2 separate regions of the Homo sapiens genome follow, and region 1 is linked to region 2. The links come from fine-mapping of genetic effects on gene expression. A gene starts in region 2. The other region holds a variant in brackets. All regions are shown on one strand. Distances are between the middles of the regions.

Region 1 (5,377 bases), 25 kb after region 2:
CTGTCTCAAAAAAAAAAAAAAAAAAAAAAAAAGAGAGTGAGAAAGAGAGAGTGAATTTGTCCTTTCTCCACCTTTTCTTTAATTCACATCCTCAATGGGTTGGATGATGACTACCCACCTTGGGGAGGGCCATTTGATTTACTCAGTTCGCCTACTCACATGCTAATTTCTTTGAGAAGCATTCTCACAGACAATGTTTTACCAGCCATCTGGGCATTCGTTAGCCCGGTCAGGTTGACACATATAATTAACCATCACAGATCTCCCTACATTATCACCACTTTCCTGGATTTTTAACCAGCATTCTTCTTGTTCCTCAGGCTTTAAACAGGGAGTTCAGCACAGACCTCAAATTGTAACAGAAAACAGAAAGCAACATCTCCTGGTTCATAGACCCTGGAGAAAAATATTTGAGATACATGAATGCCACTGACTCAAAGAAAACAGAAATGGCATTGACGTGAAAGCTGCAGGTGCTGAAAGGTTTTAGTTTGCCTTGAGCAAGTTAAATGAAAGTAAGAGAAGCAAAGACTGGATACTGTACTATTAATACCCACCACAGTGAAAACCACTACTTCATTGGCACAGGTGCTGGTACAAGAAACTTAGAGGACCAAGAGGCTGTCATAAGATGATGGTTGATGACATCAATACTACAAAAGGTCGGCCTAAGTATGTGCCCTGTGTGGGAGTGGTTCCAGCAAATCCAGTCTCTCTCTCTCTCTCACCTGAGGAGACATGGTGACCTCATGCAATGATGGATTGTAGATGGCCACAAAGCAACCACAGGCTATGAACATCAACACGTGGTATTTATAGAGAGGACAATAAAGAGAAAGAAAAGCTGCGAGGCCGGGTGCGATGGCTCACGCCTGTAATCCCAGCACTTTGGGAGACTGAGGTGGGAGGATCACTTGAGTCCGGAAGATCAAGACTGCCTGGGCAACATAGCAAGACCTCATGTCTACAAAAATTTAAAAAATTAGCCAGGTGTGGTTTTACGTGGTATCCTATCGTCATACTTACCTGGGAGGCTGAGGTGGGAGGATCACTTGAGCCAGGAGTTCAAGGTTGCAGTGAGCTATGATTGTGCCACTGCACTCCAGCTTGGGTGACAGAACAAGAAGACCCTGTCTTTAAAGAAAGTGTTTAAAATAAAAAGAAAAACAGCTGAGTCATGCACCTGACATAGAAGATGTTTTTCTTTGATACAAAAGTCATGAGCATTCTGGGGGTGCAAACAGGACAATAGAGATCAGGGAAGGACTGGGTGAAAGAAAACAGAGCTTGGGGGTGGGAAGGTATGAATTTCAGCCAATTAGAGCAATCAAGGCCAGGTTCCCCACCATGGAGACAACTTGTCAACCTAGCAAGAGTAAATGCAGGCCCAGAGGAGTCATTTCCAGCAGGCATCGCCTTTGGGAATATATACCCCAAGAAAACACAGCTCCTTTGTTGCCTGTAACAGATCTGCTGATTCTCATGTGTGCCTGCCCCACAGAGGGCTGGAGAAAAATGTTGTCCAGTCTCTCTTCTGTTTCAGATTTTCTCCCTGTTTCCTCTGAGGTGGCTTCTGAGTATTTAGGGAGTTGGGGCCTCATATCTCTGTAGCAGGGAGAAGAGATGGAACCTTGGCTTTGACCTCCATTCTGATGTCTACTCCTCCTCCACACTTATTTTTTTTTTTAATTTGCCATTAAAGAAACTGAGTCGTGTATCCTATAAAGGTTCTCAAATTCTGGATTTGGTTAATTTCATCACCTATTGCTATCTCAACTTCCTCAGTCACCTGTATTTTCTGAAAACTGGTAGTTAGATCTAGAGGTTTGATCAAATTCAGGTTCACCTATGAATTCTTCATAGGAGGTGGTGTGTACTTCTTTGTACCCCATAAAGCAGGACATAATGTCTAGTTCTCTCTCTTTTTTGTGATGTTAATATTGGCCATTGGGTTCTGGTGTTATCAGACTAGCAACCATTGGGATGATTACTGCTCAGACTTGCCTGTAGAAATAGAAAGCAAAGCATATAGGTATATTTTTTAATGTTAAAGTAAGCACATTAAAAAAGTAATCAGAAATACTGAGATTAATTTAAATAATATATTTTATTTAATCTGTTATATCAAAAATATTATATAAAAACCAAGATATTTTACAATCTTTCTTTTCTGTATTAAGTCTTCAAAAATCTAGTGTGTATTTTACACTTATACCACATATCAATTCCGATAAGCCACATTTCAAATGTTCAGTAGGCACTTGTGGGTAGTGGCTGCCACATTGGACACCCCAGGCCTACAGGCATTAATTGATTAGGGCATGCAAAATGATGATATTTAATTCTGTGATACCTTCTTCATTTATTGGCTGGAGTTCAGTAAAGAAGAATTTTCCTCGGTGTCTATTTAGTTACTCTGAAATACAGTTTGTATAGGAAAGACAGATTCTTTTCCTTTTAACCTGCCTTTCAGAATAATACATTGATAAGCTACCAACCTACAGAACAGACCTACACGTTTGCTTGTTTGTTTGCTCTTAGTATCATTATAAACTCATAGATTGAAACACAAGTTTCAGATTTGTATGTTTCAATCCATCGTAGGCATTATTCTTTTTGATACTTAAAATACCCCATCTTTGTGCAGCACAGTCCTCAAGTTGGTTTTTATGTCCTTTAAACACAACGTTAGTAGTGCTGACAACTTGCTTTTTGTATGACAAAATATTCTGAACCCATCTTATGCATTTCCTGCCACGAACCCAGA[A/G]TCAGCCATTTCTCCAAGAAGCCCTTGTTCCTTTTAATAGGAAATACATTTAGAACCTTTGAAGCGGGTACTAGAGGTGCTCAGCATCACAGGGCTAGTTATTGTTCCCAGGCCTTTTTAGAAGTTAGAAATAGAGAATACTTTTTAAAGAGAAAAAAGCATCATGAGTTTATACAGATGTTTCCAAATCCAAGACTATACTGATAGTAGTTTTTTCTTCTTTGATTTTATATTCGTATCTCTTTTCTCTTATGTTGAAAATGTTGGTTTCCAGTGACATTAACATAATTAGATTTTCATTATATCCTACTACATGTAATAGTTTCAAACTAACACCATCAATAGTATTAAAGTTGACCCTTGAACAGTGCAGGGGTTAGGGATGTCAACCCCTCACGCAGTTGAAAATCCACATATAACTTTTGACTCCCCCAAAACTTAACTACCAATATTCTACTGTTGACCAAAGCCTTACCGAAAATATAAATAGTTGATTAACACATATTTTGTATGTTGCATATATCATATACTGTATTCTTATAATAAATTAAGCTAGAGAAAAGAAAATGTTATTAAGAAAACATAAGGAAGAGAAAATATATTTACTGCTCATTAAGTGGAGGTGGATCATCATAAAGTTCTTCATCCCTCTCATCTTCATATTGAGTAGGCTGAGGAAAAGGTGGAAGGTGGGGATTGGTCTTGCTATCTCCGGAGTGGCAGAGGCAGAAGAAAATCTGCATATATGTGGACCCATGCAGTTCAAGCCCATGATGTTCAGGGGTAACCGTACTTGTAATATGATTACAAAGACTGCTTCAGATTTCTTTAGAGTTAGTTCTCTTTGTCCTTAGAATATGTCCTTCTTAGGAATGTACAGTGAGGCAGTTATTAATTCCAGGAAAAACAAAAAGTTATGCAAGAAAGAAAATATAAACATAGAATGCCCTAAGATGTCACTGTGAGCAACATTTTTGACATCATAAAAATGGAAGCACTGAATATTTAATCAAAAATTGCAATGGGAGAATGAGAGAAGGAAGAGAACTAAAGCCTCATTTCACAAAAGGAAACCAGTATATAATGTCTAAAATGGAAGAAACCGATTTTTAAAAATGGTCTGAGTTTGATACTGACATGAAAGTTTTCTTTTTCTCCAGTCGAATTTAAATTGCCACTCATTTCCATCACACGGAATTTACACTCACTCCTCTTCTCTGCTGCCTCCCAGCCACCCTTTTTGACTCCAGCTCAGGAAATGGAGACATCTTTTTTTTTTTTTTTACTGAAGTGGGATTGTTATTTAAATGTTCTTTGGGTAATCCTGTTCCCTGGACAACCCTGACTTGGACAGTGTCCCCTAGGGCAGACCCTCCAATTCAGGTTGGATCTCTTGCCAGGCAGATGTGTGAGTTCTCTGTGGCAGTAGCTCAGGCAGGCTGAGGGAGGGGTGGCGATTAGCGCGCTCCTTCAGCTCCTTCACCGAGGAGGGGATTTGAAGTGAATCTTGGAGGAGGAGACACATTTCAGGTGAGCAAGGAAGTCAGAAGGATTCTGTAGACGCAGGGACAGCATAGGAAAGGCAAGGTGCCTGGAAGGGATTCTGCAATACATCCAGTATTCCACAATACACGTGTTACTCCTCAGGGACACTGTTCAGTCACTCTGGTTTTTCTGGCCGCCCAAGATGTAGGGCCATTTCCTAATCTATTTAATAATAGGCATATCATTTGGCGTCTGCTCAGCTCAGCCCACGGCCTTGGAACAAATGGACCCAATTAAAAGGCCATCATAGGGGAATTCAAGGGAAGAGGAAAAAGCCATTGATCAAATCAATGCTCAGTTGCCCTGGGGCTGGTTTGTGACCAGCTATGCCAGAGTCCTTCCCCCTATCCTCTCCCAGATGCTGTCCTAGACCTGAGGACCTTCCCGCCACCCTGGTCCCATCCTCCTCTCCTCCACCCCCACCCACTGACTAGCTGTGTGGCCTCACACTACATCTTCTCTAGATCTCAGGGTCACTGTCTACAAAACATTGTAGGCATCCTCTGCACCCCCTCTTCTTTTATCACCTCCTTCCATCCAATCCATAAAGGATCCCATTCACTCTTCCTTCAGAATACATCTGGCATTGGTCCACTTCTCCCCACCTCCATTGCTACCACCTGGTCCCAGTCCTCAGCCTGAGCTCTCACCTGGATTTCTGCAACAGCTCCTCCCTGTAGTCATTACTTCTGACCTTGCCCCACTGTGGTCTATTCTCAGCACAGCAGACAGACCAATCCTTCTAAAATGTAAGTCAGATTCTGTCTCCTCCTCAGACCTTGCATGGCTTCCCTTCTCATTCAATGTCCTACCAGATCTCCCCCGACCTCTGGCCTCCCCTCCTCCCCTCCAGGCCCACTCCACCCCAGCTGCAGGCCCTAGGGCTTTGCACTTACTGGTCCCTCTTTCTGGGAGCTCTTTTCCATTTGGCTAACTCCCACACCTCCTTCAAGTATTTGCCCAAATGCCTCCTTTTCACCCAACCACCCTATTTAAAATTGCAACCTTCATGTCCTCACAATCCCTCTTCCTGTTGTTTTTTGCCTCCTACAGAGCTTGTCACCT
Region 2 (5,377 bases):
CCGTCCCAGGCCATGAAAACCGGCACTGCCCTGGGAGTCAGGATGCCAGGCTCTGTCTCAGCTACTGCAGAGTTCGTCTTCCTGGAGCTCAGTACCCAGCCCCTGAGTTCCTAAGGGGAGAGCTGGACCCACTAGCCCCTGGGTCCCTGGAATCCACACAGGGCTGGGCACAGAAGCCACTGACCCAGCCTACGCCATCTCCGTAGACCAAATGACTGCGTCTTGCTCAGACCCTGCCCTCCCATGGAGCTATTAATGACAGGGCCAGCCCTGGGACAGGGGAAGCAGCAATATATCACCCCATGCCGGGGCATTGGCCCTAACTGGACAAGCCAACAGTCACAGAGGGAGAGCCAGAGCCTGGGCTGCCGGATCCCCACCCCAGCCTGAAATAGAAACCTATTTCAGAGACAAATGGGGAAATGGTCCCAAGGCAGGAGGGGGCAGGGTGGGCTGTTGCACCCAGCTTCCTGAGAGTCTCGACAGGCCCCGGGTCCTCTGCTGTAATGGGCACCTGTTGCCAGGTTCTGCCGACTCACTCTAACACTAAGGAACCAGGAAAGCTAGGTTCAGAGCTCTGGGGCCTGGACACTGACAAATTATAGTCCCAGCTCCCACATTGGACAGGATCCTTTAATTTCTCTGAGCCTTAGCTTCCTCTGCTGCAAAATAGGAATAACAATAATTCTGACTGCTTTCTTTTTCTTTTTCTTTTCTTTCTTTCTTTCTTTTTTTTTTTTTTTGAGACAGTCTCGCTCTTGTCACCCAGGCTGGAGTGCAGTGGTATGATCTCAGCTCACTGCAACCTCTGCCTCCTGGGTTCAAATGATTCTCCTGCCTCAGCCTCCTGATGCTTTCATTTTTGTGTAAAACACTTGACACATTGTAGTTGCTCAGTCAATGACAGACCTTGCTATTATTGCTTAACTTTCTCTTTCAGCTCAATTTTGACGGAATGATTTATTCACGTTATTTCATTTATTTATTCATTCAGCCAAAGAGCCAACACACACCTACTAGGTAAGCCACAACAGTTAATAAAGTTTTTGGAGTTAGGTAAGAATTGAAACCCTAGCACTGCCGCTAGTTGGTTGGATAACTCTGGGAGAGCCATTTCCCTTCAACAAGCCTCCATTTCTTCTCCTGTAAAATGGGAACAGTAAATACCATCTCTGGAGGGCATTGGGATGTTATAAAGAGTCAGTGGCACTTGAGGCCAGCAGTTTGAGACCAGCCTGGGCAACATAGCAAAACCCCATCTCTACAAAATATTTTTAAAAATTAGTTGAACATTGTGATACATGCCTGTAGTCCCAGCTACTTTTAGGTTGAGGCAGGAGGATTGCTTAAGCCCAGGAGTTCAAGGTTACAGTAAGCAATGACAGTGCCACTGTACTCCAACCTGGGTGACAGAGCAAGACTCTATCTTAAAAAAAATAAAAATCCCAAAATAAAAAGCGTCAGTGGGACAGTGGTGTGAAAACAGCCAGTGCATAGCCACAGATGGAAAAACAGGTGGTGGATGGGCTGCACAGAGAAGCCAGGCAAGCTTCTGGCAGAACAGGCCATGCTGGGAGCTCCCGGCAGTCAGGTCTCCAGAGACAGCCACAGGATAAGGCAAGGGCAGGAGAGAAGAGTCGGCAGGCTCAGAAACGATTTCCAGGTTTCTGGACCATGGCCCCCTCCCTTTCTGATAAACTGACAAACAGTGAGGAAATGCAAAAAAAGATTGTAAGAATTTTAGAAGAGTCCCAGCCACACAGGGAGTCGAGGGGAGTGTAGAGTTCCACCCACCCAGCCAGTCACACACACACACATACACTGGAAGCTGGGCATTCTCACTCTCACGTACACACCCAGGGGCTTGGCACACACACAGATGCACCTTCTGGGGCACAACACTTTATAGTTTGCAAAGGGCCTTCTCATTTTTCATCTCATTGATACTGAGGGGTGGAGAGTTTCCCTGAATATGACCCATTCTAGAGCTGGCAAGAGATGAGAGTCCCAAATATCTTCAAGAGGCCGGGGCTGAACGCATGGGCTGGGCTGCCTGTTTTCTCTGTGTCGGTGTCAGCAGAGCTGAATGGCAATAGAAACTCTGGAAAAGTTTTAACCCAGCTCTCCCAGATAGGCCCTTTCACCCTTAACAAGTCACACCTGGACTCAGGGACTTTTTTTTTTTTTTTTTCCAAACCACTCTCACGGGGCCAGCTCCAGGCTGTCTTAAGATTTAGCTGGAATGGCAGAGGTGAGAGGCTTCCCAAGGGCCTCCTCTGTGGACAATTATTTGATCACTAATCCTTCCTACTCATTCCCTCAACCAAAGTTCCTGGGGAGCTCTGAGGGCAGGGCCCAGCCTCCTCCGTGAGGACCCCTCTCCAGATACTACACTTAGCAGTGTTCACATACGCAGGGAGAGACCACGGTTGCCCCCATTTTAGAGAGTAAGAAATTGAGGCCCAGAGAGGAAAAGTGCCCTTGCCAGCCATTTGCACTCCAACCAAGACCTTTGTGGCTCCGAATCCTGACTGAGCTATTCCACTTCTCCAGCAAGGCACGGCGCAGCACCAATGTGTCCATCTCCTCCCCGCCCCCACTGACCCCGTCCTGCGGTGCCTCGTCCCTCCATGCTGTGCAGTCTGCAGGCTCCAGGCATAGCCAGGCGGAGGAAGGAGGAGGACCCCAGTGCCTGCCCTACTGCCACTCTTGCCTGTGATGAGCCTCGGTGGCTGCAAGTGGACTGCAGTTACTCAGGAAGCTCCTAGGGGAGCTGAGGGGCGCAAGCCCTTCCAGGCATGGACCCAGAAAACTCACCCAAGAGTTAGCAAGTGCCTCGCTTGCAGTCCGTGAAGTGCTGGAGCAAATTCCCACTCGTGGAGCAGCCCCTGCTGCCAGTCAGTTCTGTGCCTGAAACTGTCGCGTGCAATGTTCTGGCAGAAGTCTGGAGAGGCAGCAGATGAGGAAACCGAGAGACCTGGGGAGAGGAAGTAACTTGCCACAGCACAGAGCTGGCAAGCAGCAGGGCCAGGACTCGAATCCCGAGAACCCTGAAGCTCCAGTCCTTTACACCAATGCTGACTCATCCTCTACCCAGCTGCCCGCAAGTCACTTCATTCACCCTCTGTTTGCTCACTCAAACAAGCAGCATCACCAATTTAGCCCAAGGGACTGTTGGGAGGATGGAGTGAGATAACATTTCAGGACAAGGGCCTGGCACAGGGAAGGCACGCATTGGGTGGCTGTTTTTTATCCTCCTCCCCATTATCACCCCAGCCCTCTCCTGGCTTCTCTGGAGTCTGGAGATGGCCCTGCTTCTGCTCATTGCTGCCGCAGGAAACCATTAACCTGGTTTTCTCAGCAGTGCCTGGAAGGTCCGTTAAGAGAGGCTGAGACCCCGAGATTAATGGCTCTGTTATCTGTGGCTCCAACCCTATGGATCCAGACAACTCCCACCCAGGGATGAGGATGGCACTGAGGGAGGAGAGAGACCCTCTCATACTGTTTTATACTCGGAAAAGGAAAGAGAAGCGAAACTAAAGGCAGGTAGCCCGGCGCCTAAAAACCAGACCTGAAACCAAGGAACCAGACCCGAAACCAAGGAACCAGACCCGAAACCAGGCCTGGGCCTGCCTGACCTAAGCCTGGTAGTTAAAATTCGACCCCTGACCTAGCAGCTGTTGTTATCTATAGATTCCAGAGATTGTATGGAAGGACATTGTGAAACCTCCCGTTCTGTTCTGTTTCACTCTGACCACCGGTGCTCGCAGTCCCTATCATGTACCCCCTGGCTTGTTCAGTTGATCACGACCCTCTCACGTGGACCCCCTTAGAGCTGTGAGCCCTTAAAAGGGACAGAAGTTGAGCACCTGACGAGCTCAGATTTTAAGATGCTAGCCTGCCGATGCTCCCAGCTGATTAAAGCCACTCCCTTCACTATCTCAGTGTCTGAAGGGTTTTGTCCGCGGCTCGTCCTGCTACAGCACCGAAGATGGAGGGTGATGCCGGGGGGGAAAGGCTGACCCCAGGCAATCCTCCCCTCCCCAGCGCCAATCCATCCTTGAGCTTGGGCTTGATGAGGAGAAGGCAGCCCGGGCGGCTCTACCTGGGCCCATGGTGGGCCCTCCCCGTCTGTAAGATGACTCTCCTGCTTCCTCCTCCTCCTCTTCTTTCTTACAGGTACTTATTGGCCACCTACTCTGTTCGGGTAATGTTCAACGCACTTGAGGTCAAAAAACAAAGTCCTGCCCTTGAGACACCTGTAGTCTAGCAGGGGAGATTAGTTTCTTTTGGTTAATGAGTAAATATATAGCAGGCCAGATAGTGATAAGAGCAGCGATATAGAAACATAAAGGAGGGTAAGGGGCGGAGAGCTAGGGGGCTGCAGCCTCGGACAGGTGGACAGGCCCCATCTAGATTTGCCAGATCACCCTCTCCCAGCCACCTAGCCTGGAGGAGACCCTCCCCCAGGCCCCAAGCCCCCACTCTGTGCCAGGCTCTGCCTCAGTGGATCTCAGCAGCAGGCTAGTGCGAAGACTGGGACTCCCTGGGCACAGGCAGCAACTCAGGGCCACCAACGCTTTGGCAGGGAGCATCCCGAGCTTGTGCCCCACTCCCAGCCCTGGGGAAGCTCTCTGCTTCCTCTGTGGTCCAGAGAGGGAGCACATCCCTCAACCAATCCCCAATCCCAATATCCCAGTAGGCGAGAGGGCGCTGGACCCAGAGAGGGTCGGGACTTGCCTGGGTCACACAGCAAGGCAGAGCTCCCTCTCCTGCCCTCTCTTGGCATGTCCACAAAGGTAGGTTCAGGGGTGAGCCTCCCAGCACAGTGCTGGCCTGTGAGGGGCTGGCTGTGCCCCCCGTCAGCTCCTGGTAAAGGAGTGTGAGGTGTTTCTGTGGCAGGCCCACCTGGTAGTGCCAGCCTGCCCCACCCTCCAGGCTCTGACAGCCAAATTCTCCTACCCCAAGCCCCAGGAAGCTGAAGGCATTTTCCTTGCAACCCCAGCTCATGAGAGTTTTGGTCAACCCTGCCTCAGCTTGCTGTGTGACCTCAGGCAGTCCAGGCAGTCCCATCCCTCTCTGGCCTCAGCTCCCTCATCTGCCAAATAGAGGAAGTGAAGGCACTTACATATCAGGAGTGTCATGAAGAATGAGCAAGACACTGACAAGAAGGCAGTTTGCAAATTTTTAGACACTATCCAGATGACAGGCAAGCAGAAAACTCATCTGAAAACCAGCCCCTCATCCTGTGGGGCCCTGAGGTAGCCCCAGAGCAGGTCCTTGATCCTTGATGGGAAATAAGCACAAATTCCACAGAACCAGTTCTTCCGAAAAGACAAAGCCACCTCTGCTCCCAGCCAGCTGACAGGAAGGGCCC

Which allele goes with the higher level. Positions count from the first base shown, and alleles are read on the strand shown. Sizes are in standard deviations (SD) of each study's normalised expression.
For the expression in subcutaneous fat of the gene that starts at base 2,946 in region 2, allele G in region 1 goes with a higher level than allele A (small effect, 0.26 SD a copy in GTEx).

The links. PIP is the estimated chance that this variant, and not a neighbour inherited with it, causes the effect.
Region 1: its variant is fine-mapped to the expression of P2RY6 in subcutaneous fat (GTEx, PIP above 0.99).

The regions. Positions count from the first base shown.
Region 1 is chr11:73,244,788-73,250,164 of GRCh38, reverse strand. It overlaps the pseudogene OR8R1P. Among named protein-coding and RNA genes, the nearest start is that of P2RY6, 25 kb to the left of the region's middle. RefSeq lists enhancers at 598-657, 728-777, 173-1,372. The variant A/G (reference allele first, on the strand shown) is at 2,768.
Region 2 is chr11:73,269,907-73,275,283 of GRCh38, reverse strand. P2RY6 (pyrimidinergic receptor P2Y6) reads right to left here and starts at 2,946. Exons shown (of 3, transcript NM_001277204.2): 1 at 2,818-2,946. RefSeq lists enhancers at 3,708-4,500, 4,875-4,924, 4,501-5,294.